Linked DNA regions of Homo sapiens: all the other regions are linked to region 1. Evidence: fine-mapped expression QTL. A gene starts in region 1. Each other region holds a variant in brackets. All regions are shown on one strand. Distances are between the middles of the regions.

Region 1 (6,162 bases):
AGCTCTTATTATAATGTCTTGAGATCAGGTAGTGTAAGTCCCAAAACTTTGTTTTTTTTGATGAAAGTCTTGACTATCCTAGGTCCTTTGCATCTCCATATAAATTTTAGAATTAGTTTGGTCATTTCCATCAAAAAGAAATCTGCTAGAATTTTTATTGGAATTTCCTTAAATCTGTAGGTCAATTTAGGCAGAAGTGATATCTTAAAAATGCTCAGTCTTCTGATTCATGAACATAATGTATCTCTATTTATTTAGGTCTTCTTTAATTTCTCTTAACAATGTTTTTTATTTTATTTTAGATTCAGGGGGTACACGTGTAGTTTTGTTACATGGGTATATCGAACAATGCTGAGGTTTAGGCTTCTAATGATCCAGGTCACCCAAGTGGTGAACATAGTACCCAATAGTAGTTTTTTCTACCCTTTTGGAATCCCCAGTGTTTATTGTTCCCAACTTTGTGTCTGTGTACTCAACGTTTAGCTCCTACTTATAAGTGAGAACATGCGGTATTTGGTTTCCTGTTTCTGCATTATTTTGCTTAGGACAATGGCCTCCAGCTGTATTCATGTTGCTGCAAAAGATATGATCTAGTCCTTTTTGTGGTTGTATAGTATTCCATGGCGTATATGTACCACACTTTCTTTATCCAATCCACTATTGATAAGCACCTGGGTTGATTCCATGTCTTTGCTATTCCATAATATTTTATAGTTTTCAGTATACATGTCTTTCTCATCTTTGGTCAAATTTGTCCCAAATTTGCTGCTTTTTTTTTTTTTTTTTTTTTTGCTGATAAGAGATATTTAAAAATTTTCCATTTCTAATTGTTCATTGCTAGTATATAGAAATACAACTGATTTTTGTATATTTGATTTTGTATCTTGCAACTTTTGTAAACTCACTTATGAGTTCTAGCAGCTTTTTTGTAGTATTCCACAATTTTCTTATGCAAATAAATGCAGTGCTACAACTTCCTTTCCAACTTGGATGCCTTTTATATATTTGTCTTTTTTTATTTCATTGACCAGAACTTCCAATACAATGTTTAATTGAAGGCAATTTTTACAGAGTAATATTTCTAACTCCCAGGCCCGGATTAGGCTGAACTATGGAATCTTGTTGAATTTGATATCTTTTGGAATTTATTAAATCATTATTTATACTTCATTTTTAAGCTTTTTCCTTTTCCAGTGTTCAAATATTCATCAAATGTTCAAATATTGAACAAGTACCATGCTGGCTGTCAGGGAAATAATGGTGCACAAACAGGCATGGACCTAGCGCTAATGAAGTCTTACCGTACTACCGAGGCAGTTTAAAACAGGAATTAAAAACACAGGTTCAGGGTTCTGTCTGCTTGGGTTTGAATCTGGCTCTGCTCCTTAATGGTTGTTTGACCTTGGAAAAGTTAATCGACTTTTCTAAGCCTGTGTCTTAGTGAAGGTATTAATAATACCTACTCACAGGATTGCTGTGAAGATTAAACGAATTAATACCTTTAAAGTCCTTAAAATACGGTTTGACATATAGTAAATGGTCAAAGAGTATTATTATTAGAGGGAAGAATTAGCTCTTCACAAGGTGAATCTACAAGTGACTGGTGAAGGAGGGGTGTACAAACAAGAAACATAAAAACCAGTTTAACTGCTAAGCATAGAGGCAGCAGTGTCAGCTGTACCTGGGTTAAAATCCTTGCTCTGCTGTTTATTGTCTAGGCAACTTTGACCAGACGACTTAAACAAGAGCAATGCCCGTAAAGTGCCTAGTGCAGTATTTGGCACACAACAGATGCTTAAAAGACAGCAATTACTGATTCAGACGTCCCGCAGAGCAGTAATATCACTAACATGTGCTCATCATCATATCTATCATTTATCAAAGCTCAGGATTTTGAACCTTGTAATTACTTTTCATACATTCTCTTATGCTTAACAACTCGGCTAGGTGAACACAATCCATTGCCTCATAAAGAAACAAGATGACCTTTGTGTATCTATCATCAGTGGGGAGGCTGGAGGTCTGGGAAGTGGTACCTTGGAGCCCAACTGTTGACCAAACCAGGGCTCTCAGTGCGGCCTTGGTCGCCAGCGGGGCGCTCCACTTTCCGCTCCGGAGATGGCACCAGGAGAGATGGGAGTCTGCCAGGCTGTTTCCATGGCCACCTCATGAAGCCCCTGCTCCGGGAGCGTGACAGGCGAGACTCTCCTTCGCCGCCACCTCTCGTCTCAGATGACCATCTGGGCTCGAAAGCCCTCAGGAGCTGCGGAGCGCGGGTCGGTAGGGGCGCTGCAGAGGAAGGTTGGGCGCCGTCTCCCGGCAACGCGCGGGGGGCGGGGCTTTGCGTCACAGAGGTGCGACCGGGTCCCGGCCTGAGTCGCGGCCACCCGCAGGTCTGAGCTGTGGGCTGAGGCAGCGCAGCCGCTGCCGCAGGGTGCGCGATGCCTTGAACCTGGGGTGAGCTCCGCGGCGCTGTCCTTTCGTGTTTCCCTTGCTAGCTGCTCCAGGACTCTGGGTCTGGGAAGAGAAACCCCAGAGGGCCCTCCGCTGCCGAGCCAGGCTTCCGCGGGGAGACAGGCCTAGCCCCGCCGCCCTCCCCGGGCCTCGGATTGGGGCGTGGGGACGGCTGGGGAGGCCATTCTATTGACGCCCGTCTTCTGCCCGGCGGGTTCCAGTTGCCCGGGGTGGCGGTGGCTTGTCCCGCCTCGGGGTGGTTCTGAGGGACCCGGAGAGAGTTTTTCCTTCTCTATCCCAAAACGGTTGTTTGAATATTGCCGCCGGCTCAGTCATTCGGCCGCCGGACTTAGCTGTTGGTTAAATGTCCAGGTGCGCTTGAGGAGGGGCTGAGGCGGCGTAGCCAGAGCGAGCGCTAGGGTGGCCCGCGGGCTCGGTCTCCGCCGGGCTGGACACCCAAATAAGAAACCTTTTGCCTGGGACGATAGCTCAGAAATAGCCACGTCGATCTACTTAGCCAGCCCCACACTTATGAATTGGCTTAGGCTGCTACCCTTCCCAAAGGTCTTTCCTTGTCAAACTAGCTGCTACCTTGAGACCCGGCTAAGAAAAGAACGTTTTCTTGCTAATAATAAGAAGGTAGTGATTACACAGCAGGAGCAGAAGGCTTCTGTGTTAGCTTTTGAAATTATTCCTTCAGTTATTTGTCTCGGCGTTACAAAATGTGGATTTACGATTGTTATTGAAATCGATCCCTATGCCCCTTATTAAAGGTAGTGTACCTTTTATATTCTGACACTGTCCTATTTAGCGGTGCCAGCTAATTCAGTTCTTGCCTCTGGCATATATATAAAGCTGCTGGAACACTTTCAATTGTTTATAATTCTTACATCTTCAGCACGAATTTATTCGTTTTCACTCCCTTCTGCCCATTCTTCTTGCTATAAAATGACCTCTACCCATTCAGAATTTTGTCTGGGGGCATGAGCTGCCACCGGCCGACGATCCTAAATTAGTCACCTCCATGTCGAAGTCACCCGTCTGAGAAGTGATGCTTTCTGAATTCAGAGCTCAAAAATAGTATGGATTTTTATCCTTTTCTTTCACATTGCCTGACTTCAGTTTCTAGAACTTTTTCTCAAGAATATGACTATATGTTTCAAAAATTAATATTTGTCATTTGGTGTAAATGAACTTTATATTCGATGTGTGTAGCCTGATCCTTCTTGGTTCCCATCTAAATACAAACACGCTTTCCTTCCCAAAAAGGCAAGGGAGGTCCAGAGAGAATTCTTACAAGTCTAATATGCTTTTTCCAATATGAAATGCATTTAGTAAACACACTGTTACTGTGAGAAATCCATATTCTTAATCTCCTAGTACGGCACTCTATCCTTTTGTAGTTTCTCTCTCCTTCTCTCTCTAATATATATGTATGTATCTTTTTCTGATCAAGATCTTTGATTCTGGAACAGGCATTCTGGACTCTATAGTGACTCTGGCCTAATTATTTCACTATGTATCTATATTAACTTGTCTTGAAAAAAAAAAGTTGATATCTGTTTACAGATCTACAGTTTGAGTAAACAATGAGTAATAAAGTAAATAATATCCTTAGGGACCCAGTCAGTAGTACTTGGTATTTATTACTGATGTTAAAGTTGACTTGACAGTGAAAATCATTGATGTTTATTTCAATTAAATCCTTTTAGGTGAGGTTGATACAAAATTTGATGGAGAACTGGTTTCAGAGAGGTTTTTAAAATACTACAGTGCAGTACTTGTCATTTAGTCATTTTGGTGCATTTTCAGCCTTTTCCATTTTGCTTTAGTTATTTTATGAATGAATTATGGTTTAAATTTTTAGGAGTTTTTGAGCAGTTTTTTCGTTTTTGCTTTGCCAGTTACCCATGATGTAATTTTAATATTTTTATAAGGAATATTTGAACTTCCACAATTCATTTGTTAGAAAAATAAGTGATTCACTATGTACCACCCACTAGAGAATGTGGCATTTTTGGAATCCTTGATCTTGTGCATTTCAAAATAACAGTTCTTTATTTAGAAAATCCTTCAAATGCTTTTTGAAAGCATATTTTTATCTTGCAAAAAATGACTGTGTTATAGGTGGCACAATAATATGAGAGCTGCTAGTTCTTTGAGAAATCTTGACCAGAAATTCATCTTTTGTTGAATTCTGTGCCAGTGGTTTGCAAATTATGTTTCTATGCAATACCACTGTTGCATGGCCTAGGGGGGAGTATCTTGTTAAAATCAAATAGTAAATGTTTCCCAGTTTACATAAGCATTAATTTAATGACAGATTTTCACAGTTTTACATTTTCTTTCATACATATTTTTAACTTCTGCTTCTCTCCAACCTAGTACTAATAGATGACTGACCAAATTAACAAAAGTCAAAAGAATACTAAGTGAATAATAATAAAACAAAAACTGCCAATGGTATTTACTGCATTTATTCAGTAAACATCTATTGAGTGCTTGTGTATCTGCCAGAAGACAGACCATAGCTGCTGTCCTCAAGAAGCTCACTAGAGGGAAATGGCCAAGTGACTTAACGAATGTCATAGTATGATAGAAATATGTGCAGTCACCAAAGAGGGACACTGAAAAGCTGTGGTGGTTGACTAGAGGATGGCCTCAACAGATTGTTTTCGTGAACATGCACTCTGTGTTGTGGTTTTATATTGTATGCAGATCACAGAGTCATATCTTATTTTCACACCCATATAGTGATAGATGTTAATATTTATCAATATTTTATGGTTTTCAAAATAAACTAAATGTCAAGCCCTCTTTCTGGAACCAGGTTGAAAACCACTTCTGCAGGCTCTCTCAGGTAGTCTCTAGATACTGTTGCATTTTAATGCAAGGAGTTAGTGATGAAGTTTCCCAGATACCAAGTACAGTTACAAGATAACAAGTTAATATGCTGCCTCAAATTATAAACTTTACTCAAAGTTAGGGCAGCAGATGAAAACAATGCTGAAACAAAGGGGATCATTTTCTATTAATAACTCAATAAATAAGCAACTAACTCTTCTTTTGAAATATGGTTTTGGTGGGTAATGTAGGGTAGCAAAATACGCCACTTTGGCATAAGGATTATTTTGAGTTAAAAGCACATTGAAAAGCAGCAGATGTAAGAAGTGCCCACTGACCCTCCTAATTCTTCCTGAAGGCTGGAGATAAAACAGCCATGTGAAAGATGTCCTCTCTATGCCAGGAGGAAGACATTATCATTACTAGAAGTGGGCAATCAAAGCTGAGAGAAATGTGTTCAAAGAAGCCTTCTTAAAGTAACCCTTATCTTCCTAGTCACTTTTCTGTGATTAACTGGCCCAGCCCAAACCCTTGTGTCTTGTCATGTTTTCACAGTTTACTTCTCCTTTGTCCAATCTACTATGTAAGCTTTTGGCCTTAATTACTTTTTTTAGTCCTTATTTTTCTTGAGGGCTCCTGTGTATGTATAAAAATTACTAAATAAAATTTGTGTGTTTTTCTCCTGTTAATCTGTCTTAGGTTAGTTTAATTCTTGGGCCCAGCTGGAGACCTCAGAGAGCAGAGGGAGAGAAATTCTATCTCCCCTATACCACGTTGGTTAAATTATCATAGGTATTTATATTAAATATTGAGACTATATATTTCAAAAGTTCAGTTTTTTTCTTTGTTAAGTAATGTAGATAT
Region 2 (6,162 bases), 28 kb after region 1:
TGGTAACTGTGGTTGCCCCTGGGAAAGAGAATTGAAGATTGAGATAGGAGGGAGGGATTTATTTTTCACTATATATTTCTATGCTATTTCCTTTTTAAAAGCCATGTGCATGTATTACTTTAAATAAAATCCTGTTTTTAAAAAAGAAGAAAGCAAACTGTTTTGTTTTGACTTCTCTAATAGGAGTGATCGACACAGGAATTGCCCTATTTGTCGCCTACAGATGACTGGAGCAAATGAATCTTGGGTGGTATCAGATGCACCCACTGAAGATGATATGGCTAACTATATTCTTAACATGGCTGATGAGGCAGGCCAGCCCCACAGGCCATGACCTTGAAGTGAAAGTCTTCTGTTGCTATTGTGGGCTCAAATATTTGGTCATGGGGGAAGAATGTAGGGTTGTGGCACTGGCACAGACACAGGAAAATCCATTTTCCCCACTCTTTTATTTTTGCTATTCTGATCATTTGTCCCCCTTTTAAAAATAAACTTCCCATGTCTTCCATTTGTGGTACTAAAATTTGCTACTGTTTTAGACCATATTTTCCTATTATTTATCTGTTCAAATTTGTATTATTACAACTAATAGCTCTTGAATTCTTTGCTAAAGGTAACAGCAACACTTCCAGAGGCTTCTAAAACACTACTGTTTTGCAGGGCAGGAGTATTCTGGAATCTTTTTACTTAGATATAAAATAAACCTCGAATATTAAAAAGTTGTAGCCATCTGAGAGAGGAAAGTTTAAGTGACTGAAAATGTAGAATACTTCAACGTGCATGTTACTACTTAAAACTAGTCTTTCTGCTGGAATCTAAGGAGTATATATATATATGCCCCCTTGTGGTTAATTATTGCTCCTTTAATAATTTTTACTTGAAATGATCCACAATTATTTCATAACTTTAGCAGTGTGTTTTGGAACTACTGTACTTAAAGGTTTGTTTGTTTGTTTTTGCCATACTGTATAATTTGGGTGAGGTCTACAAAATTGGGTGTGACTTTCCTTTGCAAATGGATTTCTCCTGGGGAATTTTCTTGGCTGTTCTGGAAATGCTTTCCCACAGCTGGGTAACTGTTCTAAATGGCTTTGATAATGCTCACACATCTTGGAGTTTCAGAAGGAAATTATTCTGCATCACAAATACTAAATTTTATATTTCTAAATTACTATAGGTCATTTAATATTGGTTTATGGTGCTTTTATTTCCTTAACTTGAAAACATCTTTCTGAGATTTCAGAGTCCTCAAATTTCTTAGATTAAGAGACAAGAGGCCAGTGCAGTGGTTCACACCTGTAATCCCAGCACTTTGGGAGGCCGAGGTGGGTGGATCATTTGAGGTTAGGAGTTTGAGACCAGCCTGGCCAACATGGCGAAATCCTCTCTCTACTAAAATACAAAAATTAGCTGGGCATGGTGGCAGGTGCCTGTAATCTCAGCTACTCGGGAGGCTGAGGCAGAATTGCTTGAACCCAGGAGGTGGAGGTTGCAGTGAGCCGAGATCACACCACTGCACTCCAGCCTGGGAGACAGAACGAGACTCCTAATCAAAAAAAAAACACAAGAAAATAGAGTGAGGCTTTTTTACCGTATATACATAAAATACTTATGAAAATTAGAAGATAATTTGGCATTCCTACTGTTTCACTGTACTTCCATTGAAATACTCTTTCCATTAAAATATTCTGAAACAATATAGTAATAATGGAATTGTGATCTTCAGTTGCACCTCAACCATTTTTTTTGCTTATGAACTAAAATTTCTAACATTAACATTTCGGCATGTAATAAAACAAGGGCCTATCTCCTTTAAAATTTAACATTCCATGTAACTTTTCTGACTTATCATTCATAAGTTGCAAATATTACTATTTTCCTAAACCAGGGTACACAATTTAAGTTGCCACTTATTGATGACAGAATTTCTGGATAGTAGGATTTTAATAGGCGAGCAAATAAAATTCAAATCAATTTCAAGGAAAAACATCTGGCCAGGGGTAGCTTGATTTCGCCCCCAAAAATACTGAAGACTAATCCATTGACATTCATAATGGGACAGCTAAGTACCAAATAGCTAACTACTCCCTATGGAGGTTTATGCAAGCAGAGTACCAGGGGTTCCATCATATCAACCTGGCAATGCACTTGGTGGTTGTGTGACCTTGAGAAAGTCTCTTACTCTTGTTTATGTGTTCTTACTTTAGAAACTGAGACTTTATTTGTGGTTTTCACACTATTTCAGCAGCAAAAACTTTTTCAAGGAAAATCTTACAGAACCTTTAAACACGTGTGCATACACACATACCCTATACCCCACTATATAAAAGTCATATTATTATAAATTTCCTTATTATATAAACTTTATATACTATAAATGTGATTAAGTCAATGAATAAAAACATTAATGCATTGGTGATATCCAGCATGTTTGAATTTGGTGAGTAACACACATATAGTGGGAGTCGTTTTTTTTAAAAAAATTTTTTAATTAAATTCAAGTCAAATTTGCAGAACCCTGTATCTCCTCCATAGATTCTTAGTATTCCATGGAACATATTTTGAAAACCTTGGGATAGATGATCCACTGAAATCTTTTCCAGCTCTAAGATTTTAAATTGTCCTTTTAGATTAGACTTGCTGAGTTTAATTCAGATTACCTAATTTTAAAATGTTTCTGAAAAGTGAACAGAGTTACCTTACAGAGTTTTGGATCTTTCCAGGGATAGCCAATGATTTTATCCCCCAGAATCCTTCACCTTTCAAGGAGTTATTTAACAATGAGCCCAGTGACTCAATAGGGCCCAAACCTTTTTATTTTACAATATGAGCTCCAAGACACTTACTGATCTACTGTGAATATAAAATGTTATTAGCCTTATCAAATAAATAAATGAGCACAGCTCTTTGTTCGCTCTATTGAACTGGGTGATAATTATTTAGATGTGAATGTTAGGTCAGTTCTACTGTAATAACTAATCGTAAAAGTTGTAAATTTG[T/C]TTAATGGATGAAATGTACACTTTTTGTATTCTGTACAGCTTTGTCTTTTTTAAATATGAAGTACTTAAATGTACTTACTATGATAGGAAATATAATGTGTGCCTTCTAGGATTTGTGAAGTGGTTTCATGAACTCTAAGGAATTTGTTTTCCCTATCCTAACTCAGTAACAGAGGGTTTACTCCGATTATGTATAGAACCTTAGTTTGAGAAAATGAATTTTACTATGTACTGAATTTAGAGGTTGAGAATAATAGGATCTGTGTTATTCTTAGTACCCACTGATAAATTGTGCAATAAATAATCTTTCGCAAGTGATTTTAGCTAATTGAAGAGATTATTTTCCTATGTAATTTCACATTCTAATATACTAAATGTTTATATTCCTTAGAGAACTATTTTATATTGTGCGCTGGGGGCTTGTGATGTTTGTGTGCTGTTTTAAAATTCATTTCAAATTGGACTCGATTTCCTTATATCTAATATATATCTGGGAGAAAAGGCTGCTTGAAAATATCTTTTGATTCAGTGATTTTTAACATTGGGAAGTTGAGTTTATTAAAAGGTAGTCTGAAGAATTTGCATTTTTAACTGCTATTGTCTGAAGTCAAGCTTAGTCTATCCGGGAATAAGAAAACTACTTGCAGATGAGGGAAGTTAACAGGTCACTCACATTCATGCTGGGCCACACAATGACGATACAATACAAACCTAAGCAGCTGACAACAGACTCATTTGTTCGTATGTCTATTCACCCTGCTGTAGCAGTCCTCAACCTTTTTGGCACCAGGGACTGCATTCATGGAAGACCATTTTTCCACAGACCAGGGTTGGGGTGGGAATAGTTTCGGGATGAAATTTTTCCACCTCAGATCATCAGGCATTAGTTAGATTCTCATAAGGTGCATGCAACCTAGATCCCTCGTATGCGCAGTTCACAGTAGAGTTCATGCTCCTTGAGAATCTAATACCGCTGCTGATCTGACAGGAGGTGGAGCTCAGGCAATAATACTCACTCGCCCGCGGCTCAACTCCTGCTGTGCGGCCTGGTTCCTAACAGGCAGCAGACCAGTACTGTCCACAGCCCAGGGGTTGTGGACCCCTACCCCAACAGACAGCAAAAATAAAATGCTCAACCCTATTGTAGTTTGTTTACCTTGTAAAATCATTTCCAAAATATAAGAATGTAATTAGAGAAACATCGTAGAATCTTAGTGCTGAAAAGTGCAAGGACATAAGAATGAGTGGCAGTTGGTAGTTAAATTGACTGTATCATCATACTGTGGAGAAATGCACATTTTACTGTCAAAATACATAAAAGCCTTTGCAGAGATAGGTTTTGACACGCTTGCAGCTGTTTATAGTCTTACTCTCTGTCATCTTCTATCTTACTAATTGCAAAAATTTCCAAGGAACTGTTTATCTGGTTAGTATTCCCCTAGTTACACTTGTTCTTTATAATGATCATAGTTCAGGCAGAGTATTTGGGTATATCACCTTCAGTCATGTCTCAAACGCAGGAAATGAAGAATATTGTTTCACCAACACTCAGAAGTAAAGAGAAAGCAAGAGAAAAGTGCTTTCGGCTCTTGTTTAATCCAAGAGGCCGTGAAAAATCACAACCCAGGAGCTGTGATTTGTTTTCACGAGGCAAAGAGCAATGATGTCGATCGGTTTCAGCGGTACAATTTGAAGTAACACATAAAGTGAACTTGAGCCCTTAAGGATAAAGAAGGGATAACTGCCTCAAAAACTGTTGCTTTAGAAACCTAAGCCAGTATACAATTAATTGCCTCTTATTCCAGTTGCAAACACAAAGGAAAGTAGGGATTTGTCCCCCAAAAGGCCAATTAAGTATAGCAATGTAATAAAAGCACAAAGTGCTATAGAAAAGATGTCAGAAAAGCTTGCAGGACACCGCTGCTAGCCCCATACCCCGAGCCAACCAAACCCCAAAGACACCCCATACAGTTTATGTAGCTTACTTCCCCAAAGCAATACACTGAAAATGTTTCGACGGGCTCATATCACCCCATAAACAAATAGGTTTGGTCCTAGCCTTTCTATTAGCTCTTAGTAGGATTACACATGCAAGCATCCCCGCCCCAGTGAGTCACCCTCTAAATCACCACGATCAAAAGGAACAGGTATCAAGCACGCAGCAACGCAGCTCAAAACGCTTAGCCTAGCCACACCTCCACGGGAGACAGCAGTGATAAACCTTTAGCAATAAACCAAAGTTTAACTAAGCCATACTAACCCCAGGGTTGGTCAATTTCGTGCCAGCCACCGCGGTCACACGATTAACCCAAGTCAATAGAAACCGGCATAAAGAGTGTTTTAGATCAATTCCCCTCAATAAAGCTAAAATTCATGTGAGTTGTAAAAAACTCCAGTTGATACAAAATAAACTACGAAAGTGGCTTTAATGCATCTGAACACAGAATAACTAAGACCCAAACTGGGATTAGATACCCCACTATGCTTAGCCCTAAACTTCAACAGTTAAATTAACAAAACTGCTCGCCAGAACACTACGAGCCACAGCTTAAAACTCAAAGGACCTGGCGGTGCTTCATATCCCTCTAGAGGAGCCTGTTCTGTAATCGATAAACCCCGATCAACCTCACCACCTCTTGCTCAGCCTATATACCGCCACCTTCAGCAAACCCTGACGAAGGCCGCAAAGTAAGCGCAAGTACCCACGTAAAGACGTTAGGTCAAGGTGTAGCCCATGAGGTGGCAAGAAATGGGCTACATTTTCTACTTCAGAAAACTACGATAACCCTGATGAAATTTAAGGGTCGAAGGTGGATTTAGCAGTAAACTAAGAGTAGAGTGCTTAGTTGAACAGGGCCCTGAAGCGCGTACACACCGCCCGTCACCCTCCTCAAGTATACTTCAAAGGACACTTAACTAAAACCCCTACGCATTTATATAGAGGAGATAAGTCGTAACATGGTAAGTGTACTGGAAAGTGCACTTGGACGAACCAGAGTGTAGCTTAACACAAAGCACCCAACTTACACTTAGGAGATTTCAACTCAACTTGACCGCTCTGAGCCAAACCTAGCCCCAAACCCATTCCACCTTACTACCGAACAGCTTTAACCAAATCATTTACCCAAATAAAGTATAGGCGATAGAAATTGTAAATCGGCGC
Region 3 (6,162 bases), 97 kb before region 1:
AAATTATCTGTTGTACATTTGAAATTCAAATATAACTGGGGCATCCTGTGCTTTATCCAGAAATCCTATTTCTATATCAACTTGTTTAATTCTTATAACTACCCTGTGAGATAGTTCCATTATAGATTAGGTAACTGAGGCACAGAGAGGCAAGGTAACTTGCCCAAGGTTATCCAGCTAAAAAGTATACCATAAGGTAGTGTGGCTTCTGAGCCTGAGGCCCTGAAGCCCCTAAGCCAGTAGGTTGTCTGGCCAACGCTATTTGGTCTTACTGCTCTCCCAAGCTTTCTTGAAGGCCTGCCTTGTGTTTGACAGCTCAGAATGGGAGCAGGGATGCGTGTGTGCACTGCATGAAAATCTGGCAGAATTCACCCCAGAGGGCCCCTAGAATCTTCCCACACACTCTCTCCTGGATTACTGTCTCCCCAGTCCCTGATAGAGTGAAAAACAGCCCCCACAAGACCTGAATGTTCCCACCAAAACAGTTTTGCAGAAAAGGAGAAGTTGCCCAGAGCTTGCTCAACGATTCTGTCAGCTGATGAGGGAAAGAACACTATGATTTTATGAGTTGTGTATTTTGCACACATTAGAAGGCAAGTGTGAAGAACCTTCCAGGATGTTCCATCAAGGGATTAGAGGATTTCCTCCTAATCGCTTTATGCTTCCTGCTTTGTAAGCCACTTGGAATTGTGAGTGTCTGCGGTTACCTGCTTGGCACTTGCCACCCATGGCTTGTTTCTGCCTTTTTGTATGGGCACCTCTGCCATGGTCCTCCTCCCCAGTGAGATGCCTACAGTCAGGAGAGCTTTGCTTCAGGTAACCATTAGCCAGCAAGCAGAGAAAGCTCCTATCAGAAGGCAGCTCACTCCCGTGCCTTGTACCCATTTACCTGGTAGGTATCAACACCGAGGGCACTATTAGTAATAGCAGTGGAGGTTACTTCCCCTTCTCTCCCCATTCCTTCATGCTAATGAATGGGAAGCATTGCAGAGGCCCGCTCAGTTCACCTTTGTCTTCCCAGACCTTAGCATAGACCCTGGCCACAATAGGCATTCAATAAATGTTTGCCGGATGATTGGACAGAATAAGGTCCAATAATGTGGGAGTGTTCACAGACCACATCCCTTTCTTGGACGCCAAACAGAATCTGATCATTGCCAGCCCAGTGCCCCTCTCTTCTCCAAGAAGGTCTTTGCTCTGTAAGACTCTTCAGTAAATGTTTGTGAGTCAATCATACAAACAAATGAAGACAATCTGCACAAAAAATAACTGGATGGAGCTGGGGGAGTAAAGGCTGGAGCAGGAGAAAAAGAGAAAGAAGGTAGACAGAGGATCTGGGCAGGGAGGCAAGCAGGGGAAGAGTCATCAGAGAGGGGGCGTGAGAATCGTTAAGGAAAGAGAAAAGGGCAGAGGAGAGGTCAGGATGGGAGTGAAGATTTGTTCCCCTTTCATGTTCTTTGAGAGGTGAGAGTAAAGAATGAAGTTCCTTCTATGCTGGTTTTCTTTCTGTTGAACAGTTCCGTAAGGCGAGCCTTCTCAGAGTCTGCGCCACGTGGATCACGGCTTCATTAGGTTTCAGGGCAAATAGTTTAACCACAACTCCCAACCATAGACTGTTAGGAGCATGAGGTTCTCCTTGTCTGCTAGGGATATTTATGTTTGTCAAATCATCCATCATTCCCCCATTTATATAGTCTCATGTTTTTATATCTTATATTTTATTGTTGGTTACTTCAAGTTGCTTTGAGAAGTAGATAGTGTCAATAAGATTAAAAATAAACAAAGGCCAGGCATGGTGGCTCACGCCTGTAATCCCAGCACTTTGGGAGGCCAAGGCAGGCAGATTACTTTAGGCCAGGAGTTGGAGACCAGCCTGACCAATGTGGTGAAACCCCATCTCTACTAAAAATACAAAAATTAGCTGGGCATGGTGGTGCATGCCTGTAGTCCCAGCTACTCGGGAGGCTGAGGCATGAGAATTGCTTGACCGGGAGGCGGAGGTTGCAGTGAGCCAAGATCATATCACTGCACTCCAGCCTGGGAGACAGAGTGAGCCTCCATCTCAAAACAATACATAAAAATAAAATAAAATATGTATTTTACTTATTTAGCAGCCTGAATATATGAAACTGTTAGAAATGGATATATGCTATAACTCTCCTAATACCACCACAATTATTTTTTCAGAATACAACATGGAATTAGCTCATGTTTGGCCCATCCTGCCCCTTTAAATAGACACAGCTTATCCTCATCAATGCATGCCAGGAATTTGTAAAGCCCCACCACAAGGGGTGGTGGAAACCATATGATAGAATGCATGTAAAAAATGATATTTTAGACAAAATGCATTTCTTCTTGTTCATCAGAGGACTCATACAAGAAAGAAATTCTCTAAATATGACAGACATGAAAAAGGCAACTTTCAGAGCTCAAATTTTCACAGTCAGAATAAAATCCAGGGAAAGAAGCCCGCGCATGCTATAAGCACAGTCAGAGTTTCCATTGGCGTTCCCATGGTGATAGGCATGAGGCTGCCCAGATGATGTGGGTGGGAGAGATTTTAAGCACAAACCTCCTGTGCTCTGGAAAACCAGGCCAGGATGAAAACTACATGACACAGGGCAGTAACTCAGATGCATTTGGGGCCAGGGAGCACAA[A/G]TCACTGAAGAAAGCCAATTTAGGATAGCTCAAACCTGGTTACTCTGCAGAAATATGGGCCTAAGATTGTTTGATCTTTCAGTTTAAGGAAAAGCAGGCTATCCAGACCTTTATGTGAATTCTTACAATTATGGAATGTTGATAACTAATTTAAAAACTTGTAAACACTACTAGCAAACAGGCACATGGGTCTCTAATTTGCACCTCTGAGCTCAGAATATGCATCAGAGGATGCTGATTGCTTAATTGACATCCAAGAGATCACACCTGCCAGAAACACTGACAAATCCCTGATTCCCAGTAATGCCTTTTGCTAATGCTACTCCTTTTTAATGATGTGAAGAGATTCCTCTGGAAAGACTTCAGCTCTTCCTACTCACCAGAAAACCCACACAGTAGAAAACTCCCTATTCCTTCTTCTTCCCTGGCTCTCCCATTTAGCTTGGCACCTGCCCCTGGCCCTGCCTGCTGCCCCCTCTATCTGGCTACCTGCCATTTGACACACTGCTTCCCCTTCTTAACCTCCCCAGCCCTTGTGAATACTGTTCCACTGCATGTCCTCGGGGCCCCAGATCATTGTTCCACTTCTCTTCTGGTCCCCTGGAAACCCCAGCCTCTGCTGCTTGCTGGCCTCCCACCAGGGGAGCCCACTGAACAAAAGATGGGAAAAACTGGCTCACCTTGAATAGAGCCATCATTCATTTTAATAATAATCATGACTCAAGGGTACTTGTAGACCATATGACACTTATCAAAGTGCATACACATTCGTCATTTCTTTTTACTTGCATAATCTTCCTGTGAGAGAGAGCAGGCCTTTGGCCATTGTGCCATTATAGGAACGGAGGGATAAAGCCACAGGAGGACAAGCTTATCACCAGCCCATCAAGGCATACTATCCAGAGAATGAGTTGTTGCTTTTCAGAAAACTCCCTGGGTGTCTCTTCTAGGGGGAGTCCTTGACAGAAGGATGGGTATCTGTGTCCTCAGAGGGACTGGAGCTCTGGGATCATGAGGACAGGTCAGCCAGTCTTGGTTTCAGCCACAAGCACGTGCTGACTTCTTGTCACTCCCTCTTGGCCAGCTCTAGGTTTCCAAATGGAGACACAGCTCCTATTTACCAGGGAGCTCCTCAGAATTCCTATAGGGGATGATAGATGTTCTAATAACTGGGCCTCTTCTGTCATCTCAACCAGTGTGAATAGAGGGATGCATGGATGATCTGCTGTCAACATTTCTGTATTTCCCTTTGGGTAGTTAAGTTATTCTCAAGCCTAACCTTCAGGGCTTCCCATCTCCAAAACCATAAAGACCAAACTCATTAGAGTAGCTTCGAGGTCCTTCAGAAGCTGGCTCAATCTCTTATTGTACTTTCACAATTCCCCCAGCCCTGACCTCTCCTATCTCACATGTCATAGTCCATGCACCTGCACCAGCTACACTGACAAATCCCTGATTCCCAGTAATGCCTTTTGCTAATGCGATTCCCTTTGGCCAAATCCTGTCCTCTAACATCTTTGTCGTGCAAGCTCCTATTCATCCTTCAAGACCTAGCTCAAATGTCCACTCCTCTATAGAGTCTTCTTTAACTCCCCTCACTAAAGAGTTTTCTTTTCCTTCCTCTGAGCTTTCACAGAATGTGGTCCATCCCTTGTTTCCTTATATTTATTATGAGTTACTTCCCTGTATCCCTTGCTTGACTGCGAGCCCTTTAGGGTCTTCTCTTCATATCTCAAGTTGCTTTTGGCACATGGTGGATAACCATAAAGTGTTTGTTGAAAGAGAAAGAAATCTAAAGTAATGTACACATTTATTTAAAACATTAATCATATGCTAGATGCTTAGCACATTTAGAATATCAATCATGGCCTGGCATCGTGGCTCACACCTTTAATCCCAGCACCTTCAGAGGCAGACGTGGGAAGATCGCTTGATTCTGGAAGTTCAAGACCAGCCTGGCCAACATAGTAAGACCCTGTCTCTAAAAAAAAAATTTTTAAGTCAGCCAGGCGTGGTGGTGCACACCTGTAGTCCCAACTACTCAGGAGGCTGAACCAGGGCAATCACTTGAGCCCAGGAGGCAGAGGCTACAACGAGCTATGATTGTGCCACTGCACTGAAGAAACTAAATAAATTAAATAAATAAAAATGTCAATCATGCATAGGTACCTTATCAATGTTATTTTTAATCTTCACACTAACCTTGTGAGTTAGACTTTATAATCATGGATCATAGAGAGGTTAAATAACTTGTCCACGACACATAGCTAGTAGTTGAAATTTGAGCCCAGGTTTGTCTGACCCTTCCAATAGGCAATGCTGCTTCCTTCTGCTTCTACACAGCCCACGTCCCTGCCCAAGCTTCCCTTCCATGTCCCGGGAGATTCTGAGTGCCTCCTCTTCCTTCAGCCACTGTAGCTTTCTGCACTGAATCGCTCCCGGATAAGAACACAGAGCCCAATGAACATCTCCTCAAGGATCTGGCTCTGGGTTTCCACATAAAAGCATCCTTTCCACAAGAGAAGCAGCATGGTGCTCCCCAGCTGGACTCTCACCCAGAGACTTCTCCAGCTCATGTGGCCTTATGCTTGGGGCCAAAGAAGGGAAGAGATGAAAATGAAAATGGGAAAAGCTGGGTTCACTAAAAATTGTGGGACGTAAGAAGTCCAGATAGCACTGTATGAGACCCATTTCACAACAAGGCATAATGTCAAAAGGAGAGCAGGCCTCCTCCCTACCTTGCAGGGAACCAACACCTGCACACTGAAGGCTCAAGAACACAGCCTGGCTCTGCCAGAGGCTCCAGCCCATTGGCAGCTCCCACCGCCAGTGGGGCTAGTGGAGGTGAAAACATTTCATATGCAGGGGCTCTAGAAGGATTTGGCCCACCAGGGAAAGTGGCAATAGAGACAGTGGGCACCCACTGCTTTGAAGCTGCGGGAGGCAGCACCAATAGTGGAGGTGGCAGCAACATGCTCTGGGACGCTAGGAGGCAGGCCTTTGGCAAAGGCAGTCAGGTGCTCACAGAGGGAGCAGTGGCAGCACATGCCAGTCAAGGGGGTGGGAAGGAGGAGAAGGAAAATGACAGGCACCCTCTTAAGTTGATGGAAGGACCTAAGAGAAAACCCCAGGAGAGTCTTCTAACAAATTACGATCACTGAAATGTCAAAGTTACCCAAAGGTAGGACTGTCGTGGAACCTCAGGGGTGTGTGGGTGCCACTACCTTTTCCCCAGGCCATCATTCTTCCCCAGCCAGGCTGGCCTCAATCTGAGGACTCTGTACCATTCTTTTCCTGCATTGCTAGTGAGAACTAACCAGGGATAGCTTGTAGTGTCCCTAATCTTAGTGCATGAATAGTGGACCGTGTTAAGCTCAGGTGAGGGCCTGCTGGGGAATAAAGGAGAAACTGCCTTTTTTGTTTTCTGAGTAATCCAAATAACCTATATGTGTGCACTATTCACAATAGACAAGGTATGGAAACAATCTAAATGTCTGTCAA
Region 4 (6,162 bases), 77 kb before region 1:
GTTTTCTTACTGGGTGACTTAACTTCTTACATCTTTGCCCGTGTACCCATTTAGGTCTGGGGTTTTTCGTTGATTTGTTTGGTTTTTGTTGGTAATATATGTAAACTTGATACATTATAGATATTAGCCCTTAATTGGCTTTCTTTCTTTTGGGGGGGGCTGTATTTTAATATATTTTCATTCAATCTTTTTTTTGCTTTTTAATACGTTTTGTGTTATTTTAGAGGAATTGTAAAGATTTTACATAATCATGTTTGCCTATCTTTCCCTTTGAGAAGTCTTCTATTATTTCAATCATTATAAAAATACTACTTCTCCCCAGTTGTAATAATATTTCCACTTTTTTTCTCTATTAAAAACACTGTTATAATGAATACTATCTTACATAGATCTTTATAGAAATCTGTTTTTTCCATGGGCTACTATTCTAGACTTGCAATTGATTGGTTAAAAGTATTTACTTTTAAATGTATATGTGCACACTGCCAGATTAGCTTACAAAATTATACCAATTTAGACATCCACTACCTACAGCAAAACTTTATTATCCAATATTAATAGGGCATAAGATGGATCTTAGAAGTAAAATTATCAGGCAAATGAATGTGACTCCTATAAGCACCAAATTTTAAAAATAAAATTAACCATGGTCAGTGTCCAACAATATACACTCCCTCTCATTTTCTCTCAGTTCTAGGGTCTGGATGCTTAAGAGCTCAGACTTCATCACTTACCAGCTGCATAGCCTTGGTCAAGGTTCTAATTCTCTCCACGCTTCAGTTTGTTCATCTTTTAAAGGAGGTTAATAACAGTACCTACTTCACTAAGCTGCTGTAATGTTTGCATGTGATACTGGTCTTTATTCCAGCAGGAACCTGGCATACATTTTCATTTCTGTCATTTAGGTTGTAGAACTCTATCTTGCCAACCAAATGGGATATTCTTGTACACTGTGCTCCACAGTGCTAGAGATGTGGTGGGCAACCCTCCGTGTTTAATGAATACTTGCAGACTTGTGACTTTCTTTTCTTATATTCTGAAAGCCCCATCAAAGAGCCCCGTCCCCTCCCATACCCAGGATAAAAGGCTTTGGGAGCATTTTATGAGAGCTGGCTCAGATTGTATTTATAGGCACTAAATACAGCCCTGCATATGAACTCATGGGGAAAAATCCAGTCTCTTATGATGGTTGTTGGCTGTTCCTTTGAGAAATGGGAAAAGATACTTATCAGAACATTCTGGAGTCTGAAGAATTTTGGCTCTCCTTCAGTTTGTGAGGACTGGGAGGCTCATTTCTGTGCTGCATCTAGTCTTTCCAACAACCCAATCAGTTCCCTTCTCAGGAACTATATTGTATGCTGTTTTGATCTTTGATCAGTTGCAGGTTATTTCAAGCCAAATATGTGAGACTGACTGTGGGCCAGTTCTTAGGCTGTGTGCTGGGGATGCATTAAGTGAAAAGGGTTCAGGCCCCACCATCAGGGAGAAGGCCTTGTCCCAGCTACCATTATCAGTCCCCTTGGCTAACTCAACAGCCTGCAACCTGGTCCCCTCTCCCTGCACTCCCAACCCCCAACCCAGCTCACACCATGGCCAACACAGCAGCCGCAGGGATCTCTAGAAGGCAAATCTGTTTCAGCATCTTCAGAGGCTTCATTCTGCTCTTAGGAAGAGCACTTGAATCCTCAGTAGAACCTACAAGGCCCTGAATAGTTAACCCCACCCACTTCCCCAGCATATTCTAGGGCCACACTCACTCTCACTCACAATATTTTGGCCTGCCTTCGGCAGCTCATTCTTTCCTCTTCTTACGCATGGCACATTCTGTCTTCTGCATGGAATGTTCTTCCTCTCTCCCTCTTTGCCTAATGAACTCCCAACTCAATCTTTAGATATCTGCTCATGTCACTTTTCTTGGGAAGGGTTTGCTGGTACCTTCGGATCCCTTCTCCTTTGTAAAATCTCTCAGTGTGAAATTGTTTGGATGTTTCTCTGATTAATCTCTGTTCCCCTGAATAATGAGCTCCAGAGGATGTGGCATGTCAGTTTTGCTTAGCATTGTATCCTTAGCTCCCAGCTCATTGCCAGGGACATAGTAAACACTCAATAAACATTAAACAAATGTATGAACGAATAAGCTCACTGTCTAGGAGAGGAAACATAAGAATAGACAAAGTCACTACGATAAATTGTGATAAAACTTTAACAGGCCATAAAGTACCTGGGAACAAAGAGGAAGAAGCAGCTAGCTCAGTGGGGTTGAGTCAGGGAAGGTTTTCAGGAGGAGCCACCTTGAGCTGGGGAAGAGAAAGTCATCCCAAGCAGGGGGACAGCAGAAGCAAAAGCATGTAGGCATCTTCTAGTGCTTGGCATACTTCAGGAACAGAAGGAATGTCATGTGAACTAAGTGTGAGCTACACGTCCCAGAGAGATGGGCAACAAGGTGGGAACAGTGGGCTGAGACCAAGGAAATTGAAGGCTTTGAAGGCCAATTAATGAGTTTGAATTTCATTTAGGACACTTTGGAAAGAGAAGCCTGCAGGTAAGGAAGCATCAGGATCAAATCTATATTTTAGAATAATTCTTCTGGACAGATTGTGAGAGCTGGCCTGAAACAGCAGAGGCTAGAGACAGGGAGACACCAGGTAAAAGGATAGGGAAATAGCCTGGTGAGAGGTAATGAGGTGGTAGTAAATGTGGACAGGATAGTTTGACAGCTATTGGAGATCAGCTTGTCAGGACTTGATGAGGAGATGGAGTTGAGAGGCAGACCAGGAATACCACCAGGCACCTGTCTGCATGGTTGTGAGGGTGATGAATTGTGAGACAGGAGGAGGAGTTTGCTTGAGAAGGAAGACAGTGAATTTGAGTTTGGACATGTCAAATGCCCACGGAAAGCAGCTTGAATGCAACAGACAAACCTGGTTTTGCATTCTGGCTGTACTGCTGATAAGCTGGACCCTAGTAAATCACTTTAACTCAGCTGAGCTTCAGTTTCTCCAGAAAATGCATTTCATAATACATTCTTTGTACTTTCAGAAACCAATTTCTCTTCTTTGGAGGAAGCAATTACCAAAATTCAGCAGGTCCTACAGTTTCACTTCACTTCAAGTTCAATTAAACTCTAATACTTTTAATTTCAAAAAAGTATATCTAGTATAATCTCCCTCTTTTTCCCTTGCTCCTTCTGTATTTGTGGGGAAGGAGGTGTTTAAGCTATTTTTTATTTGCAGTACTATTGTAAGAAATGACAAAGTGTATCTACTGCATAGTTGATGTTCAGTAAATGGTGGCTCTTGAAATGATTTTTATTCTCCTTAACCAGGTGGCAACGTCTAGAAGGTAGTTGGCTATCTGGACCTGGATTTTGAGGGACACGTAGGCTGAGGCAGAGAAGTACATCGAATGGACAGTCCTTCCAAAACCCCCAGTCTAGACTCAGAGCCTCAGGTCTTGGGCAGGAAAGAGGCCTCCCTGAGAAGAAAGAGGTAAAAAAA[AG/G]TTTATCCCCAACTAGCAGCTTTGACTTTTAGGAACCATCCTGGGACTCAGAGCATCTTTCAGAGCTCCAAAAGTAATTTTTCCAAGTCCCTGACATGGTCAGAAACAAATATTTTCATTGGAATGAGCTAGTCCTGGGAGATATATTTGAAAATAAATTTATTACTTTTTGTTGAAAGTGGCTTATGTTCATATCTAAAAATTCAACCAATAGTGAAAAATACAAGGAAGAAAGTAAAAATAGCTTACACTAAACACCTCCTTCCCCACTAATACAGAAGGAGGAAGGGAAAAAGAGGGAGATTATACTAGATATACTTGTTTGAAATTAAAACTATTAGAATTTAATTGAACTTGAAGTGAAACTATAAGACTTGCTGAATTTTGGTAACTGCTTCCTCCAAAGAAGAGAAATTGGTTTCTAAAAGTATAAAAAATGTATTATGAAATGCATAAAGGGTTTGGAGTTACTGAGGTAGTTTTTTGTTTTTTGTTTTTTGTTTTTTGTTTTTGCTTTGGTATGAGTTTTAATTCAATTTTTATAAATAATCATGTCCATAGTACAAAATTCAAAAAGTACAAAATGAGACATAGGAAAAAGTAAGTCTCATTACATCTCTGTCCCCCAGTAGCAGAGGCAACCACTGTCACTATGTTTTAGTGTAACTTCTAGATATATTCCAAGCATTTCTAAATATAGACATATATGTAAAAGTGGATTTTTCTTTTTTTTTTTTTTTGAGATGGAGTCTCACTGTCACCCAGGCTGGAGTGCAGTGGTGCCATCTCAGCTCACTGCAAGCTCCACCTCCCGGATTCACGCCGCTCTCCTTCCTCGGCCGGGACTACAGGCGCTCGCCACCACGCCGGGCTAATTTTTTGTATTTTTAGTAGAGCTAGGGTTTCACCACGTTAGCCAGGATGGTCTCGATGTCCTGACCTCGTGATCCGCCCGCCTCGGCCTCCCAAAGGGCTGAGATTACAGGCGAGAGCCACCGCGCCCAGCCAAAAGTGGATTTTTTAAACATAAATCGTAGTATATTATACAAGGTGTTCCAAACCTTGCTTTTTTCACTTAGTAATATACTTTTTTTTATTATTATACTTTAAGTTCTAAGGTACATGTGCACAACGTGCAAGTTTGTTACATATGTATACATGTGCCATGTTGGTGTGCTGCACCCATTAACTCGTCATTTACATTAGGTATATCTGCTAATGCTATCCCTCCCCCATCCCCCGGACCCCACCACAGGCCCCGGTGTGTGATGTTCCCCTTCCTGTGTCCAAGTGTTCTCATTGTTCAATTCCCGCCTATGAGTGAGAACATGCGGTGTTTGGTTTTTTGTCCCTGCGATAGTTTGCTGAGAATGATGGTTTCCAGCTTCATCCATGTCCCTACAAAGGACATGAACTCATCCTTTTTTATGGGTGCATAGTATTCCATGGTGTATATGTGCCACATTTTCTTAATCCAGTCTATCATTGATGGACATTTGGGTTGGTTCCAAGTCTTTGCTATTGTGAATAGTGCTGCAATAAACATACGTGTGCATGTGTCTTTATAACAGCATGATTTATAATCCTTTGGGTATATATCCAGTAATGGGATGGCTGGGTCAAATGGTATTTCTACTTCTAGATCCTTGAGGAATCGCCACACTGTCTTCCACAATGGTTGAACCAGTTCATAGTCCCACCAACAGTGTAAAAGTGTTCCTATTTCTCCATATCCTCTCCAGCACCTGTTGTTTCCTGACTTTTTAATGATCGCCATTCTAACTGGGGTGAGATGGTATCTCATTGTGGTTTTGATTTGCATTTCTCTGATGGCCAGTGATAATGAGCATTTTTCCATGTGTCTGTTGGCTGCATAAATGTCTTCTTTTGAGAAGTGTCTGTTCATATCCTTTGCCCACTTTTTGATGGGGTTGTTTTTTTCCTGTAAATTTGTTTGAGTTCTTTGTAGATTCTGGATATTAGCCCTTTGTCAGATGAGTAGATTGCAAAAATTTTCTCCTGTTCTGTAGGTTGCCTGTTCACTCTGATGGTAGTTTCTTTTGCTGTGCAGAAGCTCTTTAATTAGATCCCATTTGTCAATTTTGGCTTTTGTTGCCATTGCTTTTGGTGTTTTAGACATGAAGTCCTTGCCCATGCCTATGTCCTGAATGGTATTGCCTAGGTTTTCTTCTAGGGTTTTTAGGTTTTAGGTCTAACATTGAAGTCCTTAATTGATCTTGAATTAATTTTTGTATAAGGTGTAAGGAAGGAATCCAGTTTCAGCTTTCTACATATGGCTAGCCAGTTTTCCCAGCACCATTTATTAAATAGGACTCCTTTCCCCATTTCTTGTTTTTGTCAGGTTTGTCAAAGATCAGATGGTTGTAGATGTGTGGTATTATTTCTGAGGGCTTTGTTCTGTTCCATTGGTCTATATCTCTGTTTTGGTACCAGTACCATGCTGTTTTGGTTACTGTAGCCTTGTAGTATAGTTTGAAGTCAGACAGCATGATGCCTCCAGCTTTGTTCTTTTGGCTTAGGATTGTCTTGGCAATGCAGGCTCTTTTTCGGTTCCACATGAACTTTAAAGTATTTTTTCCAATTCTGTGAAGAAAGTCATTGGTAGCTTGATGGGGATGGCATGAAATCTATAAATTATGAGGT
Region 5 (6,162 bases), 36 kb before region 1:
AAGACAAAGAGAGTTGACTCGAAGCCCTGGAGTGAGTTTCTTACAAGAACAGGGACAGGGAGGACACACGGAATAGAGGGCAAACTCAGCTCAGTGGCAAAGGTGAGTCTCCAGCAGGTGCCTACCATGCTGACCAATCAAGCTTGGTCTTCACTTTAGGTTGGAAATACTTGGGGTTTTCTTTTAAAATACTTCCTATTTCAAAGGTACTTTCCCCTAAGTTGGGGAAGGAGAATATAACATGTAGATAAAGAGAATATAGACCTGTATCTTGTCCCACTTGTGGTTCCTGCCTGGCCTTTAGGATGCAGAATCGTAGAAATGACCTAATTTAGTTCCAGGGCACTCCATGCAATGAAGTATTATAGGAATGAGGTCTCAGCCCCACCTGGCCTGAATTATCCCCTAGAAGTTCACGCTTAGGGATAGGATAAACTAGCACCCATAGATGAGGTGTTACTCTACCCCACAGATATAATAACCATGCCAACATTCTGGATTTTCAGGACAGCCCAATTTCATATATTCAGCTATGTTGTCTCTATTAGTATAGTTAAACCACAAGTCTTGAATTTTGATTTTTTAAAATGTAGTAATAGCCACCTTGGAAAACCTTCACCAAAATCTATTTTTAGACCCCTGGGATATCTTGGGGTCCAGGGCAGCTCCAGACAAAATATCTAATCAGCTGCTGAAATATTATCTAATCTGGGTATGTATCTGTGCCTCATTGCTGGAAAACTCTGGAAACCACATGCATGCAACAAATAGGTAATGAAGTGAAGATTAGAAGCAAAATGGATAGGCACACAGGAGCTATCAATAGAGCCCAGTTGGTGGAGAATTCAACTAAAGTCAGAGGTCTCAGCCCATGCTGGTCGACCCCATTGTTCAGGGGAAGAGCCGTTAGGAGAACTGGAGAAATGCTTCTCCACTGAAAACAAATCACACACTGTCTCCCCAGTGAAAGAACCTCCAAGTTTAACAATTAAAGTGCAATCCCTACTCCAAGCAACCAGATCCTGTTCTCCTTAGGCCTCATCTCCCTCCTGAGGGTTCTCTGCTGATATTTCTCAGTCCACCACATTGCCTTCCTCCCCTTTAATGCAGTCAAGCAAAGCCCTAGACAAAAAGCCTTTCCTCTGGCACCCGTGAATACAGCAGAGACAGACTGGAACTTCTAACACTTCCAAACACTGAGAAAGAACAAAAGAGAAATAAACAGAGAGAGAGTACATGGAATATAAACAGTCTGGTTTGCAAAGCAAGGGGCTCAATGTCTTATCTAGCTAATTCAATCTCAGGCAATTGTCAGCTCCCTCCCATTTCATGAAACCCCAGGGGAAGTAAGGCTTAGCTTGGTTCCTTTCTGTCCAGCTCCTGGTCATCAGTGAGTGGCAATGGTGCCTGTAACATTTATCATGCACCTGCTCTCAAACATGATTTCTTCCCTGAAATGTTGGTGCCTCACTAACAAGCAAGGTTTGAGGTTATTAAGAGTTCCATGTCCTACTTATTGCATTTTTAAAACACTGGGTTCAGCCCAGCTGCTGATCGCTTAAGAGATTCAACATCACACATTAAAGTATTTTTGTCTGAGTCACGTATCTGTTATATATAACAATTATGTTACAAATATTGCTCTCTTGAGGATCAGTTTAAATAAACTTTGGGTAAACCCCAATATTTTAACCATATTAAAACAGAAAGCACAGTCTTCTGACATTGAACAAGTGAGACTCATAAGGGACAAGATAAAACTTTTGTCTTTTCTCCTAACGGCTGTTCAAACCAGTTCTATGGGGTTAAGAGGACATTTAGGTTCCTTTACTTTTCCAATAACTCTCAGGAAACAGAAGTTTACTTATTATAACCAAAAATTGACTTCTAAAGAAATTCTATTTCTAATCTATTTCTAAACTCTTTTATAGGCCAGGCATGGGTGACCAGCTAAGGTCACACAGACAGATCTTGGTCTCTTCCTCCAGAGCCACACTTAAGAGTGGGGTTAGAGTAGGGAGAAGCCACTCTGGCACCTTGTTTTGGAGGATGGAAATACAGCCCCAAAGGCTCCATTTTAGCATCCAACTCTGTCTAAATAGAATCTAGAGAATCTACAAAGGGCTGAGAGAAAATAACCTTCTACTTCTAAACCCTGCCTTCCCAACAGTTGTGAAAATAGTCAATGATTTTCAAATCAGCGAATGTGTTCACTTTCGTGCTTTCCTTAATTGTGACTGAAATGATCTGATGGGGTTCCCGCATGGAACGGAAACCTGTCAATGTTCTCTGTGGCCCTAGCATCCAAGGCAGGCATTCTGAGCATCTGGTCCCTTTCTAAGGAGGGCATTTATTGAGTCTGTCAATCCTTTGTTAGTCATGCATTTTCTGCTACCTCAAAATTTGAGCTCTCCGCTTCTCAGCCAATGGCTTGGTCATTGCTGTGTGTGTATGAGCCTCAGGATCTTCAGAAAGCACTTCTATCACTTTCCCCACCTCCTTGGTTCAGGAATCCTCAGTATTCTCATTTTTCATATTATTTTTTAAATTGGGTTAGAGGTTAAAAACATCAGGAAATCCTGGCTTAATGAAGGGGCTCAGGGCTTCTTCAGAGAGCTCTAGAATGAACTTGTCAAAGCAGGCCATCTGCCCGGTGTCTTTTTACCACACCACAGAGAGAGAGAGAGGACAAAATGAAAGACAGTTGGGAAGGAATCAAGAGGGAAAAGGGGCAAAAATGGAGAGGAAGAGAGAGATGAAAGGGATAGAGAAAGAAGTGTGGAGAGAGTGAAGGAAGAAGAGGAGGAAGAGGGAGAAATTAGAGAATAAATATTAATGAGGTTGAGATAACATCATGAACAAACCACCCAGACATTGCTAGAGGCTTCTAATCTTCTGCCTGCTCTTGGATGGTTTGAAGTGAACTCTTGAGGTTGATCTAGTCCCTTGTCATTTATCACTGGATATCAAGCTGCTTAGAGTTTAGCACAGTCCTTCTACTCTGGACACAGTTAGATGTGGAACTGAGAACAATGAATTACGCATCTGAGGCAAGGCACAGGTTAGAGCTTGGAACTGATCATTAATGCAGCTAGGTGCTAAAAAGATGCATGGCCAACCAATCCTGTACCCCCGGGCTTGGGAGAGTGCAGATATCAGTAATCACCCCGTGAATAGATGAGGGCATGTATGGATGGATGATCAAACAATTAAGTAGAATGATCTAGA[T/C]AAGTAGCTCTCAACTTCAAGGCTGTGGACTGGTGGAATCAAAATCACCTGGGAAAATTTAGCCAATGATTCCTGGACCATAACTTTGGATATTCTCATTTAGTATGCTTGGGGTATTTTGAACAATTGCTGCCAACCCAATCTAGGCACAGCTAAGTTTGAGAACTATTGCTCAAGACAGCATGGAAGCTATCCGCAGAGAGAACTGTGGGTCTGTGTATCATATGTGTGCCCAGTATACTAAAGCCTCTGCATATTTTTTTTCATTGACAGCAAACTTGAAGAATTGGTCCATTTCTTACAAGTCATGTATCCCAAACTGTGTCAGCACTGGCAAGTGATCTGGATGATGGCTGCAGTGATGCTGGTCTTGACTGTTGTGCTGGGGCTCTACAATTCCTATAACTCTTGTGCAGAGCAGGCTGATGGGCCCCTTGGAAGATCCACTTGCTCGGCAGCCCAGAGGGACTCCTGGTGGAGCTCAGGACTCCAGCATGAGCAGCCTACAGAGCAGTAGGAAACCTCACACCTAGCCAGTGCCCTGCTCTGAGACACTCAGACTACCACCCTTTCCCCAAGTATAACGTCAGGCCCAAGTGTGGACACACTGCCGCCCATCCCATCAGGTCATGAGGAAGGGTTCTTTTAACACTCGGCACTTCTGTGGGAGCTATTCATACACAGTGACTTGATGTTCTTGGAGGATCAACAAAACTGCCCTGGGAAAGCATCCAGTGGATGAAGAAGTCACCTTCACCAAGGAACTCTATTGGAAGGGAAGGTCTCCTGCCCCTAGCTCAGGTGGCTGGGGAGAACTAAAACACCTTCACTGGTGGTTGGGGGTAAGGAGCGGGGCACGGGGGAGGAGGAGGTAGGGGGCAGTAAAAAACTTACTCTCTTTTTTCCTCTCTGTAATTGGTTATCAGGAAGAATTTGCTTAATGACTAACACCCTAAGCATCAGACCTGGAATTTGGAGTTGCAAAGTGACTATCTTCCCATTTCCCATCTCATTTTCAATAACTTCAGCCTCCCATTCTTTCCTTTGGAATGAGAGTTTCTTTTTACAGAAGTAGGAAAGGCTTCTCAGAAAAAAAAAAAAAAGTATAGGCTGAATTTAGCTCAGTGCTTGAAATGGGAAGATATGAATTATTATATACGCATCTGTCCACACATACACACATACTGTTGTGTACACACACACAACATGCCTGTGCACAGAGCCAACAACCCTTCAAAAGTGTGCTCTGGGTGTGTACCTCTGGATAAATAAGATGCATGCCAAGCCAACCCACAGATTTTCACCAGTGTGGGGCAGTCACCAGGCACCTGTTCAATGAGCTGTCCACATGGATTGAAGATGTTTTAAAAACACAGAAAACTCATGGCTTCAATGGCAGACTTACTAGTCTCCATTTCAAATGCCAACTCTGAGCTGCTGTACAGCACAATCTATTCCCTATTCTCTCTTTGAAAACAGTTAACCCACCTCACAGGTGAATGAGGAGAGAAGATGTGCTTTCTGCTTCAGTCTCTTACTCTGTGTGTGACCACATGCAAGAGTAAACTTGCACCTCAGTGCTTCAGTTCAAATGGGGTTTCCAACCCCAGTATAATTAGGGGTGTTTCAGAGCATCCCCAGTTATTTAGCACAACACTGAAGGAGCACATCCCCTCTCCATTTTGACTTCTCTCCCCACTTTTACAGCCACTGCCTTCATCAGTTTTGTAGAGGTTTGATTTCCATGTGGGTTTTGTTGTCATTGTTTTGCATTTTTGTTTTGTTATTGATATTGTTTGCTTTCATTGCTAAAACTCATATACGACTTACTATGAGCCAAGCACTGTTCTCAGTATTACATAGGTATGAATTCATTTAAGTCCTGAAGAAAAAGAAAAAAAAATACGAAGTGGATATTACCCTTCCCATTTTCAAATAAGGAAACTGAAGCACAAAAAGAACAAGTAACTTGACAAGGACACCCCGGTAGTAAATCATGGGGCTGGAGCTCAACCCCAGGGTAGGCTGGCTCCAGAGCTGTGCTCTCCTTGACTCTTCTGATGGTCTCCTAGCTGGAAGCCTCACATTTCAGTCTCATTCCCCCAAGTGGCCCATCAGCTACTCCATCTCTGGCTCCCCAACTAAACAGTTTCTCTCATAGTGCTGGACCTCCACTCACTAGTTTTTTTTCCAGCTGTTCTTCTCTTTTCTTCAGGTCACTCTTCTCGACCGAGTGCAAAAATTATCCCCTCCATACCAGCTTTGATGACCTTCCTTCCATACTCCTCACCAGACACAACATAATAGGTCACACACTCCTCTGTGCTTTCTGGCACGTTTTAAACATTATTATTATTGACCTTTACCTATAGTATACCATGGCCTATTTATGTATCCATCTCCCCTAGCATTTTTCCTCAAAGACAAGAACCATGTCTTACCCATCTCTTGGGTAAGTGCCTAGCATGGTGGCTGACGCTTGGGAGGGTGTCATTAAATGTTGCTCAAAAGAACAAGCAAACATTTAAGGTGGTGGAGAGCAGCCTGGGGACAGCTGACATGCTGCATGCTTCTCAGTACCAGCACCATCACAATGCAAAAAGCAACATCTTTCTTAACCTCAGCTTATTCTGTTTTTCAGTCTACTCTGTGAGAGAGCAGGAATGAGACCAGACTAGCAACACCATTGCCAAGCTCAAGGACTGGGCTCAATGCAGTCACTCCTTCAGAGAGACCCCCCACCCCAAGCATGCCCCACTTTAAAATAGCATGTTTATTGAAGGGGGCATCCTTTACAGTAGCTAGAAAATGACTGAGGCCCAAGCCAGGGTTGATCAAGGATGTGCCATTAAGGTAAAGAGTTACAGAGCAGGGCAGAGGGACTCTGGGGGCAGAAGTGGATGATTTGCCCGGCCTCTTCCAGGGGGTCTGGAT

Evidence for each region. PIP is the estimated chance that this variant, and not a neighbour inherited with it, causes the effect.
Region 2: its variant is fine-mapped to the expression of RNF141 in whole blood (INTERVAL, PIP above 0.99).
Region 3: its variant is fine-mapped to the expression of RNF141 in whole blood (TOPMed, PIP above 0.99). The same link has a PIP of 0.9 or more in blood mononuclear cells.
Region 4: its variant is fine-mapped to the expression of RNF141 in whole blood (INTERVAL, PIP above 0.99).
Region 5: its variant is fine-mapped to the expression of RNF141 in hypothalamus (GTEx, PIP 0.96).

What each region holds. Positions count from the first base shown.
Region 1 is chr11:10,537,417-10,543,578 of GRCh38, reverse strand. It overlaps RNF141 (ring finger protein 141), which reads left to right and starts at 2,392. Exons shown (of 6, transcript NM_016422.4): 1 at 2,392-2,457. It overlaps IRAG1-AS1 (IRAG1 antisense RNA 1), which reads right to left and starts at 2,343. Exons shown (of 4, transcript NR_046375.1): 1 at 2,037-2,343. RefSeq lists an enhancer at 2,207-2,316.
Region 2 is chr11:10,509,088-10,515,249 of GRCh38, reverse strand. RNF141 (ring finger protein 141) reads left to right here. Exons shown (of 6, transcript NM_016422.4): 6 at 184-3,577. The coding sequence ends at 334. It also overlaps the pseudogene MTRNR2L8. Among named protein-coding and RNA genes, the nearest start is that of MIR4485, 3.8 kb to the right of the region's middle. RefSeq lists an enhancer at 3,361-4,271 and a silencer at 5,834-6,128. The variant T/C (reference allele first, on the strand shown) is at 3,000.
Region 3 is chr11:10,634,842-10,641,003 of GRCh38, reverse strand. The region is part of intron 2 of IRAG1 (inositol 1,4,5-triphosphate receptor associated 1); the gene reads left to right. Among named protein-coding and RNA genes, the nearest start is that of IRAG1, 56 kb to the left of the region's middle. The variant A/G (reference allele first, on the strand shown) is at 2,662.
Region 4 is chr11:10,614,367-10,620,528 of GRCh38, reverse strand. All of the region lies in intron 10 of IRAG1 (inositol 1,4,5-triphosphate receptor associated 1), which reads left to right. Among named protein-coding and RNA genes, the nearest start is that of LYVE1, 49 kb to the right of the region's middle. RefSeq lists a silencer at 2,811-3,011. The variant AG/G (reference allele first, on the strand shown) is at 3,498.
Region 5 is chr11:10,573,915-10,580,076 of GRCh38, reverse strand. IRAG1 (inositol 1,4,5-triphosphate receptor associated 1) reads left to right here. Exons shown (of 21, transcript NM_130385.4): 21 at 3,502-6,162. The coding sequence ends at 3,745. All of the region lies in intron 1 of IRAG1-AS1 (IRAG1 antisense RNA 1), which reads right to left. Among named protein-coding and RNA genes, the nearest start is that of LYVE1, 8.3 kb to the right of the region's middle. The variant T/C (reference allele first, on the strand shown) is at 3,229.